5 separate regions of the Homo sapiens genome follow, and all the other regions are reported to be linked to region 2. Evidence: microRNA targets listed by miRTarBase, many of them from high-throughput screens and not tested one by one. Region 2 holds a microRNA gene; each other region holds the end of a gene's coding sequence.
Evidence for each region. The annotated mature microRNA hsa-miR-29b-2-5p reads CUGGUUUCACAUGGUGGCUUAG and lies in region 2 at 2,793-2,814, opposite strand. An mRNA with a match to its seed (bases 2 to 7 or 8) in the 3' UTR can be bound and repressed. Matches are read on the target gene's strand: a 7mer-m8 pairs with bases 2 to 8, a 7mer-A1 pairs with bases 2 to 7 and ends in A, and an 8mer does both.

Region 1: the mRNA of BUB3 is a reported target of hsa-miR-29b-2-5p. Seed matches in the 3' UTR shown: 7mer-m8 at 4,612-4,618.
Region 3: the mRNA of STX16 is a reported target of hsa-miR-29b-2-5p. Seed matches in the 3' UTR shown: 7mer-m8 at 1,266-1,272, 7mer-A1 at 1,389-1,395 and 7mer-A1 at 3,805-3,811.
Region 4: miRTarBase lists DCAF16 as a target of hsa-miR-29b-2-5p. Seed matches in the 3' UTR shown: 7mer-m8 at 2,089-2,095 and 7mer-A1 at 1,793-1,799.
Region 5: the mRNA of SEPTIN6 is a reported target of hsa-miR-29b-2-5p. The part of its 3' UTR that is shown has no 7-base or 8-base seed match.

What each region holds. Positions count from the first base shown.
Region 1 is chr10:123,163,439-123,168,534 of GRCh38, reverse strand. BUB3 (BUB3 mitotic checkpoint protein) reads right to left here. Exons shown (of 8, transcript NM_004725.4): 8 at 1-4,715. The coding sequence ends at 4,700. Among named protein-coding and RNA genes, the nearest start is that of BUB3, 12 kb to the right of the region's middle.
Region 2 is chr1:207,799,700-207,804,804 of GRCh38, forward strand. It overlaps MIR29B2 (microRNA 29b-2), which reads right to left and starts at 2,824; the gene lies at 2,744-2,824. MIR29B2CHG (MIR29B2 and MIR29C host gene) reads right to left here. Exons shown (of 6, transcript NR_135299.1): 6 at 1,819-2,963. MIR29C (microRNA 29c) reads right to left here and starts at 2,240; the gene lies at 2,153-2,240.
Region 3 is chr20:58,675,634-58,680,738 of GRCh38, forward strand. STX16 (syntaxin 16) reads left to right here. Exons shown (of 9, transcript NM_001001433.3): 9 at 554-3,893. The coding sequence ends at 658. The region is part of intron 8 of STX16-NPEPL1 (STX16-NPEPL1 readthrough (NMD candidate)); the gene reads left to right. Among named protein-coding and RNA genes, the nearest start is that of NPEPL1, 15 kb to the right of the region's middle. RefSeq lists enhancers at 194-719, 720-1,244.
Region 4 is chr4:17,798,882-17,803,984 of GRCh38, forward strand. It overlaps DCAF16 (DDB1 and CUL4 associated factor 16), which reads right to left. Exons shown (of 3, transcript NM_017741.4): 3 at 1,774-5,103. The coding sequence ends at 4,610. Among named protein-coding and RNA genes, the nearest start is that of DCAF16, 9.3 kb to the right of the region's middle.
Region 5 is chrX:119,620,840-119,625,944 of GRCh38, reverse strand. SEPTIN6 (septin 6) reads left to right here. Exons shown (of 11, transcript NM_145799.4): 10 at 566-610. The coding sequence ends at 569. Among named protein-coding and RNA genes, the nearest start is that of NKRF, 17 kb to the right of the region's middle.

The DNA.
Region 1 (5,096 bases), not on the chromosome of region 2:
TTACAAAAGTTTATGAATTTGTTTTGGGCCACCTTCAAAGCCATCCTGGGCAGCATGTGGCCCATGGACAACAAATTGGACAAGCTTGCTCTAGAGGATGACTTCTAAGTATAGCTATGGGCATCCCCCTCAAAGTGGACACCATGCAGGCTGTGTGGCTTGTGCAAGTCACACCATCCCAAATAACATCTTTAAATTTGTCTACCCAGGCATTTCACATGATGTAGCTAACAAAAACTTTTGCTGTTAGAGAAATATACAGAAAATCCTGAAGGATGGATATACACCAAGAATGTTAAAAGTAGCTGCCTCCTATGAGATGAGTAAGTTCTGGAGCCCTGACATACAGTGTGGTGGCTATCTTAGTAATAATGAATTGTATACTTGAAATTTGCTGAGATTATTTATTCTCACCACATAAAAAAATGACATAGGCCGGGTGGGGTGGCTCACGCCTATAATCCCAGCTCTTAGGGAGGCAAGAGGCGGGAGGATAGCTTGAGCCCAGGAGTTCGAGACCTGCCTGGGCAGTATAGCGAGACCCCGTTCTCCAGAAAAAGGAGAAAAAAAAAAAGCGTAAAAAATTACATAAATTTGTAAATGTAATTTGTCAACTTGTAAATTTGTTTAACTCAATTTAACAAGGTGATGGAGATGTTTAGTAACCTCCTTGTGGTAATCATTTCACAATGTATACATGTATCAAAACATTATATACCTTAAATATATACAATTTTCATCAAATACCTCCATGAAGCTATAAAGAAATTTTTAAGTTATATCATAGGATTGTGATAGTATGTTTCATTTTTTGCATGCTATCCAAATTTTTCTGCAGTAAACATATCACTTCTAAGACACTAAATGCTTAATGAACAAAGCCAAAGGTCACCTGTCTAGTGCACTGGACAAGATGTCTATACTCCAAAATTATATTTCAAATTATTTTAAAAGGAGTCTATATAATTCAGCAATATCAAAGTGGTCCAACAGTCATGTGCCAGAGCATACAAAAAGATGTGGTCCTGCTCTTGCTTTAAGTAGGAAAGCAAGATGTACGCATACAAAAATGTTTAAATGCCAGGCAATATGAGGAACTACTGCTAAAGGTATACAAGCAGGAGGTGTTTCATACGTGTTTTGAGAAAGGGCACACTTATTTGTGAGCTGCAACAAGGAAGAAGGGCTTCATGGAAAAGGGGGCCTTGAACAGGACTTTGCAGGATTCAAATTAAATCCTGAAAGAGCAATTCAGAAAGAGAATGACCCTGGGCAGACTGAGATTTGGGAATCAACACAAGCGTCGGAGTGATAGTGAAGAAAGTAACCTGGCTCTCAGCGTAAGAGAAGAACCCCAGTGTTTTCTGGGGGAGTGGTAAAAGGTAAAATGATTGTGGGAACAAGACCAGAAAAAGTAGAACCGGCTTAAATGAATTTGGGGAAAACTGAGTTAAACAAATTTACAAGGATTCGTTGTAGTGATCTAAGCTCTCAGTAGGCTAATGTGCGTTGAGTCCCCACTGAGGGAAGGAAGCTAGTGTTATTAGGGTATAGAAGATACCTTTGGCAAAGCAGGAGTTTAACAGATAATGGAGGAAAAACAATGAAGGGTTTGAATGCTAAGGCTAAACTGGGCATTCTGGCCTTGGTCCTTCTAACAAGGCCTGGATCTCCCACAGAACAAAGGCTAACCTGCTAATATACCTTTAAGTTTTTACACAACAGAACTCAGAACCAGATATTGCTGTCACTTCCCATCCCATCCACTTATTTATATTCCCAACAAAGGTTAGTCCCATCTTCTGAGAGCACCTTACAGTCCGCGGCCCCTTCCTGATGATCTAGAAGCTTGGGAAGCAGCACACCTCCTTATGAAATCACTGAAGGGTGACTATGAGCAACAGGAAGCAGTGGAGGATTCCAAGTATGACATCAGAATACATTTTTTAAAAATCTTTTAGAAATTTTTTAGAATCTGATCAAGCAGTTTTTGCAAATTACAGGTGACAGGCATTTGTTGTAAAATCAATTCAAGGTGACATAGCCAGGATTTCTTAAAAAGCAAAGAAAAAAATGCACACATGCACCAGATACATCGCATGCAAGAAGGGCAAGTCATATTTCAGGATCCTTCTGTCATGTATAATATACTGACCTCTGTGTTCTGAACTGTAGTTCAAAATGTATTTCTTACTTGGGTCACAACTACAAGGTTCAAAAGTCACTACTCTATTAGATGGAGGACTTAAGGCAGAAATTGGAGGCTGCCACATTCACCCAAAAGGCCCTGGGATGGTAGCAGTAGGAAGAAAAGATAAACAGAAGAGACACTTAAAGAATGTGGGTGAGGGAAACCAATGAGAAGGCCAAGGTAACTACACCTGGGTAACTTGGGGAAAAGGTAGCTATAACCATAAACAAGTAAATTGTGGAGAGCTGGTTAAGGGGTATGTAGAGATGGCAGGGAGGCACACTTGATTTCCAGAGACAAGAGGACATCCAGATGGAACCACAAAATAAGCCCTCCCTCACCACCTCAAAAACAAGTCCACATTACTATAATTTGGTTACCTATAACAATACTATATTAATTCTTTCACTTATACAATGTTTTAAACTTATGGTCTGTCCTCAACCAAGTGGTTAGGGACTTTTAGAAGCACATAATCACACTAAAGAACTAATACCATCAGTCCCTGGCTATTACATTATTTACCTTCCCAAGGGCTTCACTGTGATTTAGTATTTGATGGCTAAGTACAGAAGGGTCTGTTATTTGGCTCTGTGTGGACTATGACTACATCAACACGGGGATGCACAAGCTACCTAAGCACTACTGCGCTGGCACTAGTAAAGCACTGAGCCAAAAGGTCCCCAGAGGCTGCCACATAGTCTCTGCCCATCCTGAGTGAAGCTGCACACTTGGCTCAAAGGCCCTGCTGATCCACCGAGAGGGCACAAGGGGGCATGAGGGAAATGGCTGAACTCCAACAAATCACTTTATGCAGGACTGAATCCCCAACACACATCAGAGGAGACAATTAAACGAGGGAGAGTGGACTTAAAGGTAAAATGTCATCCCCCAACATGCCTGTGATGACGAGTTTTGCCTTACACAAGCCTTTTTAAGTAAATTATATTAATTACCAACATTCAAAAACATCCAACATTCAAGGGTTCTGCATCTCGTTTATTAGCACAGAAATAACAGGTTTAGAGTATATTACAAAAAGAGCTCAAACTGTTCAGATACAGCAACTGGGCTTACTAGGGGACAGAAGGGGAAATACGTCAGACTACTGTACAGGGACACAAAGACTCCTCATCCTAAACAAAGTATTAAGGTACATAGACAAGTTTCTTGTAAGACAGAAAACAGAGAAATCCACAGTAACTCTAACACATCCCTTAAGGAATAAGCATGTATTTGTAGGAAGCAAACAAAGCTTTCCATAGAGAAACCACTTTCACAGGATGATTAGGTGGACCTGCAATGAAGAAAATACATTTCAAAAGATGGGTTCAGACTTACACCAAGTTTTCACTGAAATACTTAAAAAAAAAAAGACCCTTCTCTGTATCAAAAGAATTAAAAAAAATACATCACGGATAAAATAAATCTCAGGAAAGGTCCAAGTCCTACTCAGAGACATACATTTGCAAATTAATATAAATTTTAAAGTTTGACAACAAAAATACTATTTGGAACTACCTAGAATAGGCCAAGCTAAGTTCGTGTTCTGCTTTAGTGCATTACATTGAAATGAATCTCATTCTCACTATAATTTTTTTCTTTTTAACTTTAATCACCAGCGGCTGGTCAACTGAAATGGACATAAGAACTATATAAATGTCAGAGAAATATGTAAACCTCATTAATGTTTCCAAAAATTCATTTAGAGATAGAAACAGGTCCAAATAGATGCCTGTCTAAATGCACTGCAATTACGTTACAATTATTTTTCCAAATACACAGATATGCTCTGTCTTTTCTCAGCTCATTACTGACTCAAACAATTTGCCCTTCTGGGATCAATTGTTTGCTAATAAATAATTGTTTACAGTCACAAAATGATATTAGGAGGTTTTCTTATTAGTTTTCCTTCTGCACCCTAATAAGATTGAAAACTAGCTGATTCCCAAGAGTCTAACCTTAACCTCGCTTTGTTTAACAGCCCAGGAAATGATGAACCATCTGCTTCAGAAAATAATGGACGGCCAAGAGGAAATATTGTTTAATTGTAGATTAACCTCCTCATGAAGCAGTCTGAAGCAGCTTTAGAATTAGCAACTATAACCAGCAAAAGAAACAAATGGCTCACGAGCCTTTTCCTCTACCATTTAAGGTCCAGAAAGAATGCAAAGGGATTTTTATTACACTTATTTACAAACATTTATTTCCACAGTGGAAACAAAAAATCATCAAGGTCAAAACTGATTCTCAAAACTGCAGTCACTTGCCCTCCAATTTTGTTTGCCCAAATACCTTTAATGCAGCAAACCATCAAACCATCTCATGCACTTAAGAAGGTGTTTATTTAAAAAAAAAAATTCAAAAACCTCTTTTCCATTATTTTCAGGTTGTTATAATATTAAAATTAATATTTTCCCTGGTTTCTTTAATAGTAATAAATCCACCATTGGGGAGTACGAATTGTTTTATTATCATCAACATGGCACTTAAGTAAATGAAATCTTGTCAAGTACATGGTGACCTACAAGTTCAAAAGAAAAAAAGAACAGCATGAGATCAAAATGGCCAGCCAGGACAGGAGATACAAAAGTGACAGATTAAATGCAAACACAGCCCTTTATCCAACAGGCTTCACATGCTAAGACTTTTCTAAAGTCAAACCTGTAAAAGCATATCTGATATGGAATATTTAATATTCTGCCCCCTCTTAGGGGCTCAACCAATCAGCAAGGGTACCATATCCATTTTAACTCAGCAAAGTACAGGAATCCTGAAAACATTCAGTTATTCTACAAATATGTATCGAGAACTTCCTTTAAGGGCCTGGGGAGAGGGGACAAGGAACTGGGCAGATACTTGGAGTAGGTATTTTATAGTTTAACACATGCTGAAGTATCAGATT
Region 2 (5,105 bases):
ATTCACCAAGACCCGCTTATAAATTTACAGCTAATAAAATCTGGTAAAATTTAGATAAGCAGGACCCATGTCCTACAAAGCATTTTCTACCTAGGTTGATAGCATGGCTTCATAAACCCGATTCAAGATGCTGTCTCTGGAAGAAACAGTCTACATAATTACCAATTTATTGTGCAAAACCACCTCAGAATGGCAATTTTAGATAAAGAGCTGTCCGCATCCAAATGAATAAAACAAAATAATCCTGTTTGAGGCACCGCAGTTACATTTTGCTTCTCACGACTTAGCAGTGTGGCACTATTTAAGCATTCAATGAGAGTGCTATAAACTTCTTTTATAGAAAAGACGTCTCAAATCATTGTTTTTGTGCTTTAATGCTGCACTCAATTTCACACTTACTCGTTTGAGGACTGGAATCAGGGCCTCCTGAGAGCAAAAATCTGTCGTCTGTATTTGCAACACCTAGGCTGGAGCTTTGAGCGTGGTGGGCGGATCAAAAACTGTTTAATTGGTAGGTAGTACAACAGACCCCAAAAATGTCTGACCTATAGGTATTTAATACTATTGTAGCCTATCTCAGTGGGAAGTGAACAAAACAATATAACTTAGGGTCTTAACTAACACCACCACTTAGGGTCTTCCCACCACATCCTGGGGATTAGAACATGGGTTCTTCCATCAACAGCCTGAAATAGCACTGCAGCTGCAGTGAGGGGGTGCAACATATGTACTGGCAAGTCTTCCCAGCAAATGCTACTTCCGCCCCCCACTCTCAGCCCACTGGGCAGGGCAGCCATCTAGAGGAAGACTGTGGCAGGGGGTTGGGCTTAGAAATGGCTTCCTAGGTGGCTGATTTGCCATCATTTATTGCAAGCCACTGGCTTAAAAGAGTTCTACTGAGGGTAGTTCATAGTCATGCACCTCCTGTGCAAAAAGCCTGATCAAGGGGCCACAGCCCGCCTTCCTGAAGATCCTACAAGCTTGATCCCCTATCAAATCAAATCTGGCTAATCTCTGAATAGCTTTACAAAACTGGCTCACTGGGCCAGGCGAGGTGGTTCACGCCTGTAATCCCAGCACTTTGGGAGGCTGAGGTGGGTGGATCACGGGGTCAGCAGTTCGAGACAAGCCTGGCCAACATGATGAAACCCCGTCTCTACTACAAAATACAGAAATTAGCTGGGCGTGGAGGTGCCACGCCTGTAATCCCAGCTACTCGGAAGGCTGAGGCAGAATTGCTTGAACCCGGGAGGCGGAGGTTGCAGTGAGCGGGGACAGTGCCATTGCACTCCAGCCTGGGTGACAGGGTGAGACTCCGTCTAAAACAAACAAACAAACAAAAAAAAAAAACAAAAAAAAACTGGCTCATCTTGTTTTGAAGTGTTGACATAAACTAATAGTCAAAAGCACCACTCAATCTTTTATAATGCAAGTGAAATCAGTGCTGTGCCCCTTCAAGGAACCATGTGACAGTATGTTTAGTTGAGCACCAGTTCCTTGCAGGAACAGTTGCTGGCAGAAGGGCTGTGTCTACAGCCCATGTGGAACTAAGGAGTTTTCCCATTCAGTAGGGAGCATCCCTCAGCCTTGATCTTCAACATTTCTTCTCTTCCCTAATCTTTTCTCTCATTTTATTTCTTGGCTCATAGAATTTCATTCTTCTCTTAATGGGCTTCATTTTTAATGTCTGGCTGGCTGTAACCTACTTCAAATTCTTTATGAAGTAGGCAAGATCTGCACAGCCAATTAATTTTTCAGGACCCACTTCTTATCATCACAGAATTATGAATGGGAAATAATAGATGAAAAACACAGACATGATAAACTGAACATAGTATTTATTAAGGTCAGGATGCATGAATAGACTCTTCTCAACAGAAAGATAATTCAACAGCAATCAATTTACAGAATTTAGAACAGCACTACATTTCAGCAAAATGCAACTAGAGAACATCAGATAAATTATAGTAATTTGTTTTTAAAAATCCATTAAACTATCTCTTACCTCTGCAATAATGTATCATACATGCAGTTACAGAAGTTAGTAGGGAAAAGCATGATCTTCCTTCCCTATTCTCTGCCCATCCATCTTCCAGGAAACCACAGGCTGCTGCTGCCCAGAGTTGGCATGAGGCTTCGAGGCTGCTGCTTTTCCCCCTACATCATAACCGATTTCAAATGGTGCTAGACAAAAACAGACTCTGAACACCAGGAGAAATCGGTCAGCCTGTGTAAGAGATGGGCCAGTGGTGCTCCCAGGGTCTGCACCTCGACAGTCCAGGTGGCAAGTCTGATTTCGGGTGCCCCGCAATCAACGCCGAATACTCCAGGGCATCCTCTAAGAGCAGACTGATGGTGTCGATGTGGACAAAATGGTCCTCCAGGTGTACTGCCCTCTCCCCTGCCCCATGACAATCGACACCCAATACATTGTTATCCAACAGAATATGACAATCGCCACACTCAAAGGCCCTACGAACACATTCATGCTGGTGATGGCTGCTAGGAGTCAACAGAAATAGCATCACAACCTCTGCCCCTGCTCAAGCCACTGTGTTTATTTTAAACACAACCCCCTTCTCTACTGTCACCTCTCCCAAAACCCAACAAACTCAAGAGTGTATTTTGCTCTTCAAGTTCTTCCCTGGACTTCTCGAACAGACTCAAGTGGCAAGAGGAGAGGAGCCAGTTCCATGAGCAGCAGTTCCTCTGCAGTCCACCCTTGGCTGTGCTGCAATTCTTACTCCTAAAACACTGATTTCAAATGGTGCTAGATACAAAGATGGAAAAATCTAAGCCACCATGTGAAACCAGCTTCCAGAAGAAGAGGATCTCAATGAAGAAAGAAGGGAGATTCAATCGGAAGACCCAGCCTCTGCCCTGAGGAGAAATATCTTCTTGTAGTTCTACTTGTGATATGACACAGTGCTCCATGGGAAAGGCACAGAGGAGGTTACACAGGGCTGCACAAGGCAACATGAAAGGCACAGCTGATGCTTCAAATAGATGAGAGCAATACAAAACTCATTAATTCTAGGTTAATTCTATTTAACTTCACACCAGTCACTACAAATTATTATATATGATGAAATAAAAGCTAAAATTATTACTAAAATACATTAATATTTACATTTGTACTGCCCTGCATTTGTATAGTATTTCACAGTACACAAAGTGTTTCCAGATATATTCTCTTACTTCATCAGGACACAAGCACCCTATCTGCCTGTGGAATGAAGCTCCAGCTGCTACACAAAGGCGAGTCTCACCTGGGCCAGGACAACTCTTTTATGTGTCTTAACTTGAGAAAAGCATGCATTCCTCCTTCCCACCCCATATGTAAGTATCAGAACATTCAAATATGACCCCATGAACCTGCAATCTTATTTAACCCCGATGTGACTTCAAAAACTGGTACCCTATAATTGTATTAAGCAGATAATCCTCTAACGTAAGAATTGAGTTTTATTTTCAAAGTCTGCTTGAAAATAAGATTTGCACACTGTATTCCAAATTAGATTTCCCATCTCCTTACTGCATCATCTTTTTTGGTGGTTTGAAGCTAAGAAAATATGTGTATTTCCTCTGATACCATAACCAAGAGAAAAGAGACAGAGTAGACACTGTATATTTTAGCTTCCTTTCAGGCCTCTAGATACAGCCTTATAATTTTTATGGTTCCTGGCACTAACAGTATGTGTTGCTAGAAGGAGAAGAAATAGAATTTGAACATCAAAAGTTGCGGTGTTTAATTCTCACAACAGTCGTATGGGGCAGGTATTATTCCAATTTTTGCGAAGAAATTCATCCTTAATGAGGCTAAATAACTTGTCTGCAGTCACACAACCAATCAATGCAGATCCCAGGTCTAACTCCAAAGACTGTGTTTCTGCCCTTGTATCCACTGCAGCCTGCTCCATAACTTGACTATCATCTCATTTTGTTCTTGAACTTCATTAAGAACAAAACAGGGTGGGTGGGGCAGGAAATTCCTAGGCGATACTTCTGCACTGAATGGGATCATACTGACTACATAACACGTTATACTTAGGGGGAGACAGGAGCATCATCTGGGTTCTGCGAAAGCCGGGTGGTCTGGGGCAGCTTGCTTTGTTCTCCTGCTCCTCTAGCGCCTTTGCCGTCTTTCCCCAGCATGTGGCTGTGGGAAAGACACTGAAGATGAACCTGCAACAAGCGATTCTGACACCAGCGCTAGGCTCTACAGCCCACGGGGGACTTGCTAGCCTCAGTCACAGGTGGGAGAGCTGGGGCAGATCTGCACACAAGGGCTCTCAGTGATGACACCTGTAGCCAACACCTGGGGCTTGTTAACCAGGTAACAGCCAGGGTTGTAAGGTCAGGAGTGAGTGTTTAAGGACAGTTACTACTGGGAGTCCAAATCCTGTCAAATGAGGGGATTTGATGAGATTCTCACTTTTCTGCTTTTCATTTTAGCCACTCTTCCTTATCAACTTTTAGTTACCAGTACCCCCTCCCTATGAGCTATCACACAGGTGTCCCGCAGTGATCAGAAAGCACCTTCCTCCATGGCGAGGTCCTGCCTGCCTAAGCTGTTGTCTCTTCTGGAATACTCTCCTTCACCCTCCCTTGGCTACCACCCCTCAGCCCCGCCCCCACCCACCACCACTCCAGGGAACCTGTCATCCTCCCCGCAGCTCAGGAAAGCCTCCCTGAGTCCAGCCCTTGCTAGAAGGTTAAGTGGTCCTCGCCAGCCTCAAGTTCTTTCCTTCAAAAACCACTTATCTCACTTGGTCATCAGTGTGATTATTTAATGTCTCTCCTGCTACCCGTAAGGGACCATTCGGAGTACAGCAGAGGGGCTGTGCATAGCAGGACGCCACTGCCACTGAGGGAGTTAACAGAAGCCACAGTCTGGGTCCCCACTCCTGGATTCTAAAATTTAACTCTTTACTCTCTGGAAGAAGAGATAAGAAGCCATTAACAATGCATCACTTTAATTAAACACTCTAAAAGAAGTGGAGAAAAAAATCATGTTAGTATTGAAATCCTTTGCCTTTCCAATTCCACTGGATAAAAGGGGTCCTTCAGGTCTCAGCCCTCCCAACAGAACCAGTTTTCTCCTC
Region 3 (5,105 bases), not on the chromosome of region 2:
ATGACATCCATGGGGCACACGTGTCTGTTTTTATTTCAAAGGATGAGTTTTTGTTTCCAAATTTAGGGGAGGTCGAAATGGGGCCTCTTCCGGGTGTCTGTTGCCTACCTGCCAGGTACGGTCCTCCAGCCCGTTGTTTCCTTCCGCGGTGAAGGAACTGTGCATTCGCTCCAGGAACACGGACCGGGAACAGGCGACCCGTGCTGCAGGGGCACTTGCCACGGCCTGCAGGAGGAAAAGCCGGGAGAAGCAGGCCCAGCTGCACCCGGAAGCATGAGCTTTCACTTCCCTGTCAGGCTTTGTCTTAGTAGTAGGTTTCCAACAAATCCATTTCCACGTCCAGGGTAAATAAGCAGCACCAGGATCATGGGGCTCTTCCACTCCTGGTGATTGAATTCCGTGGGATTGATTGGAGGGATTACAATCATGTAGCCTGTAGCAGAGACCTCAGTCACTGTGCAGAGAGATCTGGAAGCCTCATTCTGGAAACGAGTGGGACTTGATTTGGGATTTTGGGGAAAATGACGGCCTTTTTTCCCTCCTCTTTTTGTAGGCAGAACAGTATCAAAAGAAGAATCGGAAGATGCTTGTGATTTTAATATTATTTGTCATCATCATTGTGCTCATTGTTGTCCTCGTTGGCGTGAAGTCTCGATAAGTGGCATTGGGTTTTCGTGTGTGCCGCGCGTGTGGATCTCCCGGGTGTGAGGGGCTTGGCCTGCGCCCCGCCAGCTGCCCGCAGAGGTGCAGCCTCGAGGAATCTGAGGGCGTCGGGGCAGCGAACCTTTGCATCCACGGACTCCTCCTTCCCTAGTCCTGCTCAAGCGGTCCGGGGAATGGGTTTTTGTTTTTCCTTCATTGTTGAGAATTTAAGGACCTTTGATACTGCTGCACAATAGAGATTGAGTTCTGGGATCAGTTATAATATATATTTTTTTTAGAAAGAGAAAATGAGCTGAGAGTTTACAGGCACTGCAGAAGCTGTTCAGTATTATATGTGTATATGCTATTTTTTTAGCAGCCATGTCTGAGCAGAATGTTAACATAATTTTTGGAAAAATTTTCTTTAAACCATCTGGTTTTTAAGAAATTTGGTACCAAAAATTGATGAGTAGAGGCAAAAATGCCCCTTCATCTTTCTCTATATATTTTCCAGTTGAAAACAAACTAAGAAGTCCTTTAAGAATTTATAATCCGTTCCCCATTAACTTAATTTAGCTTTTCCATCACTGTTAATGATCAGAGTAACAAAGTGTGAAAAATAAGAAACCATCATTGATGTTAATTAACACATTTAGATGGGCCAGTTAAAACAGCTTCATAAGTTTTAAATTAATTGTAAATGGAATATTCCTCATTTAAAATTTTTGCACTGCATTTTCTACTGTAAACCAAAAGAGGTTACTAAGCAAAACCACCTAAATTTAAGTTGGTGATTTAAATGAATCTCACATTAAAAGAAAGCTTGACAGTGTTATGAAAGCCACCAGACTCAGCCAGTGTGTCCCCATGGGTATCCCCAGCCATCCTTGCTCAATCCATTACTTATATACTAACTACATAATGACCTGTTCAAACCAGACTCTATTTAATGAACTGTGAATTTACACAGAGGCCATTTTAAATGGGTCACCCCATTTAGGATTAGTGGATCTCAAATTATTAACCAAACATCACTCCATTTCAAAGTAAAATATTCCACCAGCGATTTGATTTATTGGCTCTTCCATTGCCACTGAGCAATGCCCAGGAAGCAGGCACATTGCCAAGGACTGGGGGCATCTTGACTAGGAAGCTCCTCGTTTGTGTGAGCGTGGGTCAGACCGCCAAAGTAGGACTTCATCGTTTACCTACCTATTATCAATATGGTGCTTGAATATATTCCTATAACTGTAGAACAGTGTGGAAAGTGATGGTAACTTTGAAGTTGTTCATGTTTTATTGGCTTTGTTTTAATTGACACTAGTAGAGTTTTAATGGTCTTTGTGTAAATTTTAATGGCTTTTCCATTGTTTTTGCTTCTCTTAAAAAGTTTAAGAAGAATATGACCTCATTAAATGTGCTGTTTTATTTGGACCAGTCACACAAAATGTCTCTCTAGAGTTGACTTTAAAGTTGTTTACAGAAATTTAAACTCAATTCCAGAGATTGAAGTTGTCCAAACAGCTCATGGGCTTAGTGTCCAAACCCCTGCCCAGCCTTCCCTTTCCAAGTTGGTGCCACCTCCAGGTAGCCATTGGTGGTTTTCCTATTACTGATGTGGCTGTGGAATGATAAGGTCCTAGAGGGGCCCTGGCATTTCAGGAAGCGGACCTGGTATTCCCTGACAAACATTGCTTAGGAAAGAGGGCCGGAGAATAAGAAGCCAGCACCTCATCAGTCAGCCCTGCAATGTGAGACTTCCGTAGCTGTTGAGAGTCACTGCAGGTGTTCTTTCATCCCATCTGATTTTAACCCATGGTTGAGACGTTCCAAGTTAGATCTGCTGCTCTTAGGTGTGGGGCTGTCCACATTAGGGAACTTGCCTCAAAAACAGTCCACAGTGGCAATACCGGACTTCTGTTCAAGCTTTTTAAAGTGCTGAGCCTTACAAACCCCTGAAGGAAAGTGACCCTTTAAGAGAGGATCATCTTTTTTTATATTTATTTTCACCAAATAGGGTGATGAGGGTTGGTTTTTGTTCCCTCAACCCATTTGGGTAAAATAACGGATCTGATTAGAAACTGTTTTAAGGAGGGGCTGGGCTCGGTGGCTCACGCCTGTAATCCCAGACTTTGAGAGGCCAAGGCGGTCACGAGGTCAGGAGTTCGAGACCAGCCTAGCCAACATGGTGAAACCCCGTCTCTACAAAAAATACAAAAATTAGCCGGGTGGGACACGCCTGTAATCCCAGCTACTCAAGAGGCTGAGGCAGGAGAATAGCTTGAACCCGGGAGGCAGAGGTTGCAGTGAGCCGAGATCACACCACTGCACTCCAGCCTGGGTGACAGAGCGAGGCTCCGTCTCAAAAAAAAAAAAAAAAAATTGTTTTAGCGCTGGGTTTCCCAAGGTGGGAGAGACAGACCCAGCCTGGAGCTGGCCCCTGGCCTGTGTGCTGACTTCTTGGGGTCCTCAAACCACTGTATTTTTCTGTTGAGCCTGTACTTGGGGAGAGATCAGTAGCATTTGAGGAAGTAAGAGAAAAGAATCATGGTACCTCAGGGTTTCTTTCCCTTTACTCGCTGGCAGCCATTGTCTGTGGGCACCTCATGTTTTTCCACACTCTACTGGGCCGTGGAGGTAACGATCACCCAGGCCAGTCTCCTCTGCCTGGGATGCGCCCTCTGAGAGGAGGCCTAGCAGGGCAGGCTCCCTCTGGGCATCCCTGGATGCAGCCTCTGGACACATGCCTCCTTTAAAGTGTCCGGGTGCAGCTCAGGTTGAGTGGAGGTAGAAGGAGAAACAGACATGTTTACCACGCGTTTTCCAAAGCTCCTGATCTTTCCCAAGATTGTAACTGAAAACTGCTGTCTCTTGTTTTGTTCGTTTTGGGGGTGGTGGTGCTGGCTGGGCCATGCTTGTGAAGTGATGTGTGTCTCTGATTTAACGGATTCACTGTTTTCTCTGCTAATTGAGAGAGCGTTATTTACATTATTTATTTGTTTTGACACAAGTGCTTTCAGTGTTTTATCCTAGCTAATGGCTTCTTAAAGGTAATAAAACCCTTCCAACGTAATTGGTCAGATAAAACTTTTTTTCTTGTATGCTTAAATAAAGCAATTAGTGAAGCACTTCTATCCAAAATGACTTTTTTGTCCTTTTTTAAAACCAATTTACTGTTACTGGAAACTTTTTGTACAATAAAGCAATCACGCAGATTAAAGAACATCCTGCAATCCTAGTATTAATTTTAACAATGGGTTCATGTTTTCTTCCAGTGCATTTGTGTTAGGGGAGGGCTTGGCCAGTTTTGTGATCCTCTGGGCCCCTGACTCTGTTTTGTGCCTGAGGCCTTTGCCTCAGTGTCCGAAAGTAGATCTATCTAATGGATGCTTTCAAAGGGACAATCTATTTACTATCTGATATACAAAAAGAACAACTGCCTAAAAGGCAGATAAGTATTTTTCTTATGAAAATATATGCTTTATATACATACCAAGAAACATTTGGAAATCTCCAAATAAAACTGTGATGTGCCTTGTTGAGAAGCAATTCTTACACACAGGCTGTAAGAGACTTGACTTTCTAAATGATTTTGTTTCCTACTCTGTTACACCAAAAACTTGAGAGACAAGTGTCTGCCAGTTTAACTCAAAGCCAAGACTATGTTTCCCCTTGATTGTGCCTGTCCTGGGGTCCTCCGAGGAGGACCTTTGTCCTGAAACTTGACTTTGATGCATTTGTTTTGCTGGTGGGAGATGTGGACCTGAGTGATGGTAGGGGTATGTGGTTTCATCACCAGAACCTATACAAACAAAAAATAGCAGCTGTCATGCCAGGTCTCTTTGGCACCCTTGGCGTTTGGTCCTGAGGTGTTGCGGCGACTCAACAGCAGAACCCTTCAGAGCCTGTCAACAAACCACACAAAAGAAACAACCTCCTCCTCTTGCACTCTCACCGTGTTTTTTGTTAAGAAATTACATTTCCCCAACTCGCATGTTGGCCACTGGCTCTGTCCAAGAATCAAATCCACTCTCGAGGGAGAGACGTTTGCCATAGGGTTCAAGAATATTCTGACCGGCAATGCTATTTAATAACATTGAAGAAATCCTCCATCCCGAAGGGGACCACATAAAGGCGGCAACACCTCTTTGGTGACCTCTTGGGTTATGTTCTCAGCTGAGTCTTTGGTGGCCCAGTCTTGAACCAGCACTACAAGAGTATGCAGACGCAGTCTGCAGAAGCATTGCTGTCAGTGGAGAGCTGCAGGATGCCACCAATGACTTGGAGGCATGACTTGCCAAGAGGCCTGGAAGTGGGGAGCCACTGGGGTGTCCCTTTGAATGCTCACTTTGACAGCAGGTAAACAGGCTGGATATGGATTTCCTCTGTGAAATTTAGCAACCATCCTATAAGAAGTCTGATCCTGATCCAACGTTTGAGCAATCTAGAATCCTTCCTGGTCC
Region 4 (5,103 bases), not on the chromosome of region 2:
CATTTTTCTTTTAGCAACAGCAAGTTGACATAGAAGTACTGGTGGTTGGTCCAGCTAATGTAACTCCCTCAGTCCAATGGGTATCACTGGCGGACAGATACGTTACCAGCTTGCACAGTTAACTCATGAAGTCTGAGAAGTTATCCATACTTCTCAGGCTGTTCTATATGTCCTAGCTACCTGAGCAAAACACTTTTGGCCCTGATCTTTGTGCCACTACCTTGTGATTAGCAGATATAATTTAAATCTGGATACAAAATATCTATATATTTTCTCCATTTCCTTGGCTGAGTATCCGTTGTGGGGGTTTAATTGAAGTCTGCCCTCCAGATGAATCTTCATTATACTTGGATGGCTGCTCCATTCAATTCTTTTATATGATTCTCCACTATAAGCTATTTTCAATATGTGAAGGGCCAACATATGGATTAGGGTTTAGGTTTATTTAATATGACCCTAGACAGCAGAAATGGCTTGGGGTAACATATAGGTTCATATATTTTAAAACTAATTTCCTATGTGTAGTAATCTTATTTAGTTTTGCATTCCCAGTGTCTGCACTAGAGTAGGCACTTCTCCATAGCAATATTGGATGAATGGCTAAATTTCTAACAAGAGATATTTAAAACTAACAGGCTGCTCCAAAAGACATATTCTCTAACACTGGAGCCAAAAGTAGAAAGCCAGATGCAAGCCAACTTACGCATCAGAAAATAACCCAAGTGACTTCTAAAGTCTTTAAATGCTTTAGCTATTTACACTATCAAAACATTTTCATCAGAGACTTTTTTTTTAAAATATGGACAGGTGTGATAGAAGACCCAGCAGGAAGGGCTTCTATCCCCTAGAGGGGACCTATCATATGCCCTCCTGCCATGCATGTATGGATTTTTTTCTTTTCTTAGGAAGCAGATGGGATTAAAAGACGTGATTATGGTCTTTGAGGCTCAAGGTATCTGGACTGTTTTAATAAAAATGTTGCCTATGGCTGGGCACGGTGGCTCATGCCTGTAATCCCAGCACTTTGGGAGGCTGAGGTGGGTGGATCACCTGAAGTCAGGAGTTAGAGACCAGCCTGACCAATTGAGAAACCCCATCTCTACTAAAAATACAAAATTAGCTGGGCGTGGTGGCACATGCCTGTAATTCCAGCTACTCGGGAGGCTGAGGCAGAATTGCTTGAACCCGGGAGGTGGAGGTTGCAGTGAGCCGAGATTGCGCCATTGCACTCCAGCCTGGGCAACAAGAGCGAAACTCCATCTCAAAAAAAAAAAAAAAAAAAAAGTTGCCTATCTGCACTGAGAAAGTAAAAGACAGTTAATGTCCACTGGTTTAGAAATAGTTTCCTTACTCCTTTGATAAATATTTCTATAAATAGAGGATAAAATAATCTTTTTATCTTAATTATGGTGACTGCATTTAACAGAAGCCAACATAGGGAGTGCAAAGGTAGTAAATTCATTCCCAAACCCAGTGTTTATGCCACACAAAAAGTTAACTTAAGGCTTATTTAGGTACCTGTTATTTTGTGCAACCTGGAATTACTTAAAATACATAAACAAATAAGCTCACTTTGAATCTTGACTGAATATCAGACATTTTCTTCTTCAAGTGTGTTTCTTCTCTAGAGACGCCAAGTCATCTCCTGTCAGACATACTATATAGATTCAGGTACTGTATCTATTAACTCTATTCAGTACTTAGTGAATGTAGAATATGCCTTAAGCAAAGTAGGATCTATTTCATTTGTTGAGGACAAATGACCATACTCTGTTCAGCATGTACAAAGCTATTGGTTTATTCAGCTGCCAAGCTGGGGAAAGGCTTCCTTTCGAAGTGAATAGCAAAAATGCATTCATGAGCAAGGCACTTTTATACACACACAGAGAGAAAAAGGAACGTATTATGAACACATGAACATAAACATATTTTAATATTCAGACCTCTTCCCTACCTCCTCCCACCTCCACTTAAACAAACAAACAAAAAAAAAGGAAACAGTTTCCTGTAACATTTTAGAAACCAGTTTCACAGAATACCTACATAGGAACAATTTCTGATACATTCAGTTACACTAACAATATGATATGGTTTCAGGTCAATAATTTCCACTAACAAATACTTTTATTCTACAATTCCCTCTTTTTTCCTTTAGACAAGACAACTAAGGCTCAGCAGAAATATTCACTAGGTTATAAGCATTCTTCTCTCTTCTTAAAGTTGCTATATATTTACACAATTTGTGATTCCTAACCTTTTTTTTTTTTGAGACGGTGTCTCACTGTTGCCCAGGCTGGAGTGCAGTGGCGCGATCTCAGCTCATTGCAACCTCCACCTCCCAGGTTCAAGCAATTCTCCTGTCTTAGCCTCCCAAGTAGCTGCGATTACAGGCACATGCCACCACGCCCGGCTAATTTTTATATTTTTAGTAGAGATGGGCTTTCACCATGTTGGCCAGGCTGGTCACGAACTCCTGATCTCAAGTGATCCACCTGCCCTCAGCCTCCCAAACTGTTGGGATTACAGGCATGAGCCACCATGCCTGGCCTGCTTCAATTTTTTGATGCCACTTTGTAAACGGCACTTAATTATGGAAAATAGGAAAAAGCAAAACTAAAATAAGGAAGAGGATATATATATAACTTTTCACAATCTCTTTTCTGATTCCCTTTAGATGCCCAGTCAACCAGGACCACACACAGATTTCATTTTATTTGTAGAGTATATGAAAAGATTTAATAGTCTCATGCATTTTATTTTACGTATACTGATTTCTACGTTTTGACTGACTATTTAAATAAACAAAACAAGACTCATTTACAAGGGCATATACTCTTCCTTGTTTGGCCAGAAGAAAATCTATAGCTAAATCTACTTAGAAAAACAATGCTGCTAAAACTCTTAACTTCAGATTGTATTAGGCTGAGATTTTCTAATAACAAGGTTCTTTAAAATTAGAAGGGTTCAATCCCAGCACTTTGGGAGGCCGAGGCAGGTGGATCACGAGGTCAGGAGATCAAGACCATCCTGGCTAACACGGTGAAACCCTGTCTCTACTAAAAATACAAAAAAATAGCCAGGAGTGGTGGTGGACGCCTGTAGTCCCAGCTATTCGGGAGGCAGGGCAGGAGAATGGCACGAACCCGGGAGGCAGAGCTTGCAGTGAGCTGAGATCATGCCACTACACTCCAGCCTGGGCGACAGAGCAAGACTCCGTCTCAAAAAAAAAAAAAAAAAAAAAATTAGAAGGGTTCCTGAAAAGTTTGCAATGGATGTGGAAAGTACTTGAGCTTTTACTCCAGGAAATGCTATACAGATTAAAATTTTAATCCATTAGCAGTTAATGCTGAAAGCAGAAATGCTCTCTTAATCATTTTTCCATTCATCTTTTGAAATGTTATTTACTCTTGACAAAAGTCTGAGTACCAAGATTCAGGAAACACATTCCCTACAGAACAGGTGTTTGTTTAATCCCAAGGGATGATCTTATAGGCTGATTTAGTCAGAGACAGCCTGGTGGGAGACTCCGATATAGAACGTTCATGCTGTAATTTTAAGTACCATAATAAGTTTGTAGTAGTATAGGCTAGGCTTAAAACTGCACTCCTCCTGCCTCCCCGCCCCCTTCCAAAAAAAAGAAAAAGTGAAAGGAACTCTAAAGAGTGTCATATGCAGGCACATCTATATAAAAGCTGGGAAAGAAATTCATATCCCTGCCATTTTCCTTTGTGTAGTTACCCAGTTTAATTCAACTACCTCAAAAAAAAAAAAAAAGAAAAAATAAAAGGAACCCTAAAGAGTGTCATATGTAGGCACATCTATATAAAAGCTGGGAAAGAAATTCATAGCCCTGCCATTTTCCTTTGTGTAGTTACTCAATTTAATTCAACTACTTCCACAGAAATGTATGTTAGAGAAGAGTATGCTCAGAAAGGTATTATTGTGGGTAGCTAACTTCTTGCTTTCAACAATGGCTGTTCTAAAGTCTGGATAACAAAAGGGGTGGTGGTCTACTTTTCTTCATTAATAATCAGGTATCTCATTAAAGCCATTCAGAAAGGCAGAGTAAATTGGGGTGGGGAGGGTGAGAAGTGAGTGTGAAGAATATTCAACTATCTTTTGTAATATGGTCCCCTTAACTAATTCTCCTTTTTTTTTTTTGAGACTGAGTCTCGCTCTGTCACCCAGGCTGGAGTACAGTGGCATAATCTCAACTCACCGCAACCTCCGTCTCCTGGGTTCAAGTGATTCTCCTGTTTCAGCCTCCCGAGTAGCAGGGATTACAGGCGTGCACTGCTGCGCCCGGCTAATTTTTTTATTTTTAGTAGAGACAGGGTTTCACTGTGTTGGCAAGGCTGGTCTCAAACTTCTGACTTCAGCAGATCCACCCGCCTCAGCCTCCCAAAGTGCTGGGATTACAGGTGTGAGCCACCATGCCTGACCTTGATATTATCATTTTATCCACAGGGTTTGTCAAAGGGTATCCTCATTGGCTTGCCAGGGCATAAGAGAGTTTGACTGAGAAGGCATTAGTGGGCTGTGTAATGACTAACTTTGTACCACTTTCTCAATTAGCAACATCAGAGATATCAGAGCAAATGGTAGATCTTTACAGTGATGCAGTTAGGAGTTTGTTAACTGCCTTTTGGAAGTCAGTGTAAGAATAAGTAGTGTTGATGGGTTCAGTACGAGTTGTTTCCTTAACTGTTTTAGTCAGCCAGCCACAGCAACACCCAGAAACACATGAATTAGGGATCTGTTTTAGGTATTCAGGTATGGGAGTGGCTCTACTCAATGTTCGGCTTAGCTGTTTGGTGGCAAATTGCAGTGCTCCATTTAGAGTGGCATGATCTCTAGAGAGCCGGCTGGGACTTGTAAGAGGCTTTTGAAAAGGTGGGACTCCACAAGAGGCCAGAGGGGGCCATTCAGGAATTGGTTCCAGTTTGGGGACACAATGGGAACAATGGGAGAGTCTTAGACCTATCTCTCGAAGTATATGGACTGGTGTGCTTGGATCCAACAGTTTAGCATGATACAACCAGGAATTAGGATTTAAAGGTTTCCAAGTTGTGGAATATTTTAAAAGGCACTTAACCTGCCAGG
Region 5 (5,105 bases), not on the chromosome of region 2:
TAGTAGTATTTCTTCTTGAGAGATGGTGGTTGGATCTAAGAGTCACATATTCAGAATTTCCTTTAGCTGCCCCTAAAGAGATTAAGAAAGTACTGGCCAGCCGTGGTGGCTCATGCTTGTAATCCCAATACTTTGGGAGGCCAAGGCGAAGGATTGCTTGAGTCCAGGAGTTTGAGATCAGCCTGGGCAACATAGTGAGACCTTTGTCTCTACAAAAAAAATAAATAAATAAACATTAGCTGGGCCTGGTGGCACTTGCCTATAATCCCAGCTACTCAGGAGACTGAGGTGGGAGAACTGCTTGAACCCGGGAGGTTGAGGCTGCAGTGAGCCATGATTGCGCCACTGCACTCCAGTCTGGGCAACAGAGAGAGACCCTGACTCAAAAAAAAAAAAAAAAGAGTATCAGTGTTTCAGGGGTTCCTACCAGTCCACCCTTCCCACTTCCCCTTCCTGCTACTCCTAATCACCTTTGACCTCTAACCCTTCATTGTTTGTGTCAAGTCATAATATTTGATTTCCCCTCATGCTCACTCCATCTTCATCAGCTCTTACTGTTTTACAGTTAACTCTGCTGTTTGCTGCATGCTGCATGAGACCCAGGGTCCTGGTAAGCTTGATTAACTCTAAATAGAACTGGCAGTGGCTTCTAGAACATATCTCCCCCAATCCCGCACCCCCAACACAAGCATCTAATCGTAGAAGAAGCTGCTTCATTGGTCTAGCTGGTTTTCTCTCGTGACTTATAATATGCAGAAATAGTCTGGTGTGGTTTCAGGTGTACATGTGGAATGCCTGCCTGCCTGCCTGATTAAAGTGAGGGGTCGTTTTCAGACTTTTGCTGCTAGAACAGCTGGGTAACACAGGTGGATCCTGTGATCAGTATTTGAGGTTTCAGTGTGGGAAGTTTTTTTCTTAAAGAGCCATAATCGGGCCGGACGCAGTGGCTCACAGACCTGTAATCCCAGCACTTTGGTAGGCCGAGGAGGGCAGATCACCTGAGGTCAGAAGATTGAGACCATCCTGGCTAACACGGTGAAGCTCCATCTCTACTAAAAATACAAAAAATTAGCCGGACATGGTGGCACAGGCCTGTAATCCCAGCTACTCTGGAGGCTGACACAGGAGAATCGCTTGAACCTGGGAGGCGGAGGTTGCAGTGAGCCGAGATTGCACCATTGTACTCTAGCCTGGGCAACAAGAGCGAAACTCCATCTCAAAAACAAAAGGAGCTATAACCATTATTTTCAAAATTAATGAAACCGTGGTGATGAGAGAAACTGGGTTTCACAAGCTCCGTCCTGCAATGTCACAGTCAGCATCAACCCTCTCCCATCCCCCTGCATCAGGTTTGAGAATGTCCAGAGTCAATGGAAACTCACTTCTCTGTTTCCCGCTGGTGGCAGTTTCATATCTGAGGGGTTCAAGTCCTCAAATTTCCTTTGACTGTACCCCTCAAAACCATAATAAGGCTGAGAGCAGTGGCTCACGCCTGTAATCTTAGCACTTTGGGAGGCCGAGGCGGGCGGATCACCTGAGGTCGGGAGTTCGAGACCAGCCTGACCAACATGGAGAAATCCTGTCTCTACTAAAAATACAAAATTAGCCGGGCGTGGTGGTGCATGCCTGTAATCCCAGCTACTCGGGAGGCTGAGGCAGGAGAATTGCTTGAACCTGGGAGGCGGAGGTTGCAGTGAGCCGAGATCGCACCTTTGCACTCCAGCCTGGGCAATAAGAGCGAAACTCCGTCTCAAAAAAACAAACAAACAAACAAACAAAAAAAAAAACAAAAAAAAAAAACCCATAATAAAAGCGGAGGAAAATGAAGAGATCTTAGAAATTATAGAGAATTCCTTACATTTAATCCTACAAGTACTGGCTTCATGAAAACCTCTTATAAGGAGATCAGCAGGTAAGGATTCCTGAGTGCTAGATGTTGTGTTAATAGAAGTTTATAAAGTTTCACATAGTTTATAGGGAGACTGAAAGCAGGGATTAAGGACCTTCTATCTCCTCTACTAGACTCAGGTAGTGGATGGAAAGGAAATACAAACATTTTTAATTTAACATAATTAGGGTTTTTTTTGTTTGTTTGTTTCTTTTTTTGAGACGGAGTCTCACTCTGTCACCGAGGCTGGAGTGCAGTGGCACAACCTCAGCTCCCTGCAACCTCCGCCTCCTGGGTTCAAGCAATTCTCATGCCTCAGCCTCCCAAGTAGCTGGGATTATAGGCATGTGCCACCATTCCTGGCTAATTTTTGTATTTTTAGCAGAGACCGGGTTTCACCACGTTGGCCCAGGCTGGTCTCAAACTCCTGACCTCAGGTGATCTGCCTACCTTGGCCTCCCAAAGTGCTGAGATTACAGGCGTGAGCCACCGCGCCCGATGAAGGGTTATTATTATTTTTTTTAAACTTTACCGTGGAAACTTTCAAACATGAGCAAAATAAGAGGATAATACAGTTCAGCCCCCAGGCAACCATAAACATATGCCTAATCTTGTTTCATCAATTACTACAGACCTGCTGAATTATTATAAAGCAAAACTATATCATTTTATCTGTAAATACTTTAGTATATATTTCCAAGAGATAATGATTCTTTAAAAAAACATAACCACAACCCCACCATTATCACACCTACAAAATGAACAATAATTCATTAACATGAAATGTCTAGTCAGTGTTTGAAACATCCCGGTTGTCTCATAAATGCCCTTTTACATTTGGTTTGTTTGGATCAGGGAATATAAAATATAGAGAAGACTTTTCCCCACTCACCCATGTAGTTTATGATTTAAATGGAGAGCCTGCTGTTAGTCACCAAACTGATTGCCGCAGCTATTGCACTGGGGACTCGGGGCAGCTGGCAAAACATCCTGCTTGGAAGCAAATCCTGAAGAGGAAGTCCATAGAGGTTTCTGCAACATAAGGCCCATGAAACCGGGCCAAAGGAAACAATCTTAAAAGAACAGTGACTTGATTTACTGTCTGGCTTAACAGCAAGTCTTGGAGCCCCTGCTAGTTGACTGGAATTAAACAGCAGATTTCCATTTAGGAAGACAGTCAGTTCCTAGAATGCCTGTCCATTCTTTGCACTGTATGTAGTTCCAGTGCGTAGTGAAGTGTCTGACATGTAATAGGAACTCAGTTCATGTGTTATGTTCTTTGTTCTCCCATTTTTAATGAGGTGAGCAGGAAATATGTATTCTAGTTAATGAGATTTCAGTTAATTCAGGTTTCACTGCACGTGGCTTGACACAGTTGCTTACAGGTTTCCCCAAGTAAATCATTGTTAGTGGCCATTCCTAAAATGAATTCTGGCAAAACTATAATTAAAGCTACACTTTACAAGTGAGAGGCAATTGGTAAACAGCTGGAACAGCCAACCCCAACCCCAAGTAGGTTGGCTCTTCCTGGCAGGATTCTCCCTGGCAGACCACGAAAGCAATTTCAGACCAACGAGTCAGGGGAGGCTTTGGCTCCCCAGGATCTGAAAGCAGCAAAGGCAACCCGCCCCCTCCTCAAAGCCCTCATTCAAGGGGTGGATCACGAAGGCCACCTAGAATGCAGGCAGAGTGAGGCTTACTGTGCCTCCACATTTTGAAATTGCTTGAGGCACTACTTATAGCTCTCTGCATTTGTAAAAGCGATTCCTTTGTGACCCCCTACATCGTTGCAGATACTCTACCTCAATCATTATTGGTCCTTAGGAGTGCACAGTATATGGATAGTATACACACATCAAAATACGTCAGCCTTCCCATGAAACCTAGAACATAGGCCATTGCAGTGTTTTTTAGATTACTCTTCCCCTAGGAAGTAGACAAAGAATAAAAATAAGATATGAGCATTTGTATAGCTTTTATTACTTTCCAAAGTGTTTTTTTTTGTTGTTGTTGTTTTGTTTTTGTTTTTGTCTTTTGTATAGTATCTCATTTTATACTTACAACAGGTCTGTGAGGTAGAGAAGGAATAATCCCCAGTTTGCAAGATGAGTAAATGGAAGCTGGGCGAGGTGGCTCACTTATGTAATCCTAGCACTTTGGGAGGCTGAGGTGGGAGGATCACTTGAGCCCAGGAGTTGGAGACCAGCCTGGGCAGCATGGTGAAACCCTATCTCTCTATTTTTTTTTTTTTTTTTTAAGAGAGTTGGCTGGGCATGATGGCTCACGCCTGTAATCCCAGCACTTTGGAAGGCCGAGGCAGGAGGATCACCCGAGGTCAGGAGTTCAATACCAGCCTGGCCAACATGGTGAAACCCTGTCTCTACTAAAAATACAAAAATTAGCTGGGCATGGTGGCGGGTGCCTATAATCCCAGCTACTTGGGAGGCTGAGGCAGGAGAATTGCTTGAACCCCAGAGGCGGCGGTTGCAGTGAGCCAAGATCGCACCATTGCACTCCAGCCTGGGTGACAGAGCAAGACTCCATCTCAAAAGAAATAAAAATACACACACACACACACACACACACACACACACACACACACACACACACCAGCTCTGGGCCCAGCTGTGACTCTTTGCAGCCACAGGCAAGTCTGTTGACTTCTCTGTGTTTCTTGGTCTACTCATATGAAATGGGGATCAGTTCTACTTGCTGTATTTATGTCACAGGAATGAAATTTACATGGAAGAGAGGTCAAAGTATTATTTAAGCACAAACCAATGATGGGTTTCCATAGTTCACATTTTCAGGTAACTGTGGTCTGGACCCTAGAACAGAGTTCTGCAATCATCCCCATATGCTCTGCAAACAGGTCTTGCCCCAGAGTACCAGTTAGCTGACTAGGACAGCTCTAAGGATCTCCTGGGGTGAAACCTCAGCCTCCTCTACTTTCCCAATGGGACAGGAAATGCAGTGGCTAGAGCCTGGGGCTCTATCCAGTGGCCTGAGGCCACTTAGAGATTTGTGGAAGGTATTCCTGTACAAGGTATTGGGTGGTGGTGCTGGGGGTGGGTGGTGGTGCTGGGGGTGGGTGGTGGGGGACACTAGTCAGGACCTAGTCATTAAGAAGAGATAGGCCGGGCTCAGTGCCTCACGCCAGTAATCCCAGCACTTTGGGAGGCTGAGGCGGGTGGATCACTTGAGGTCAGGAGTTCGA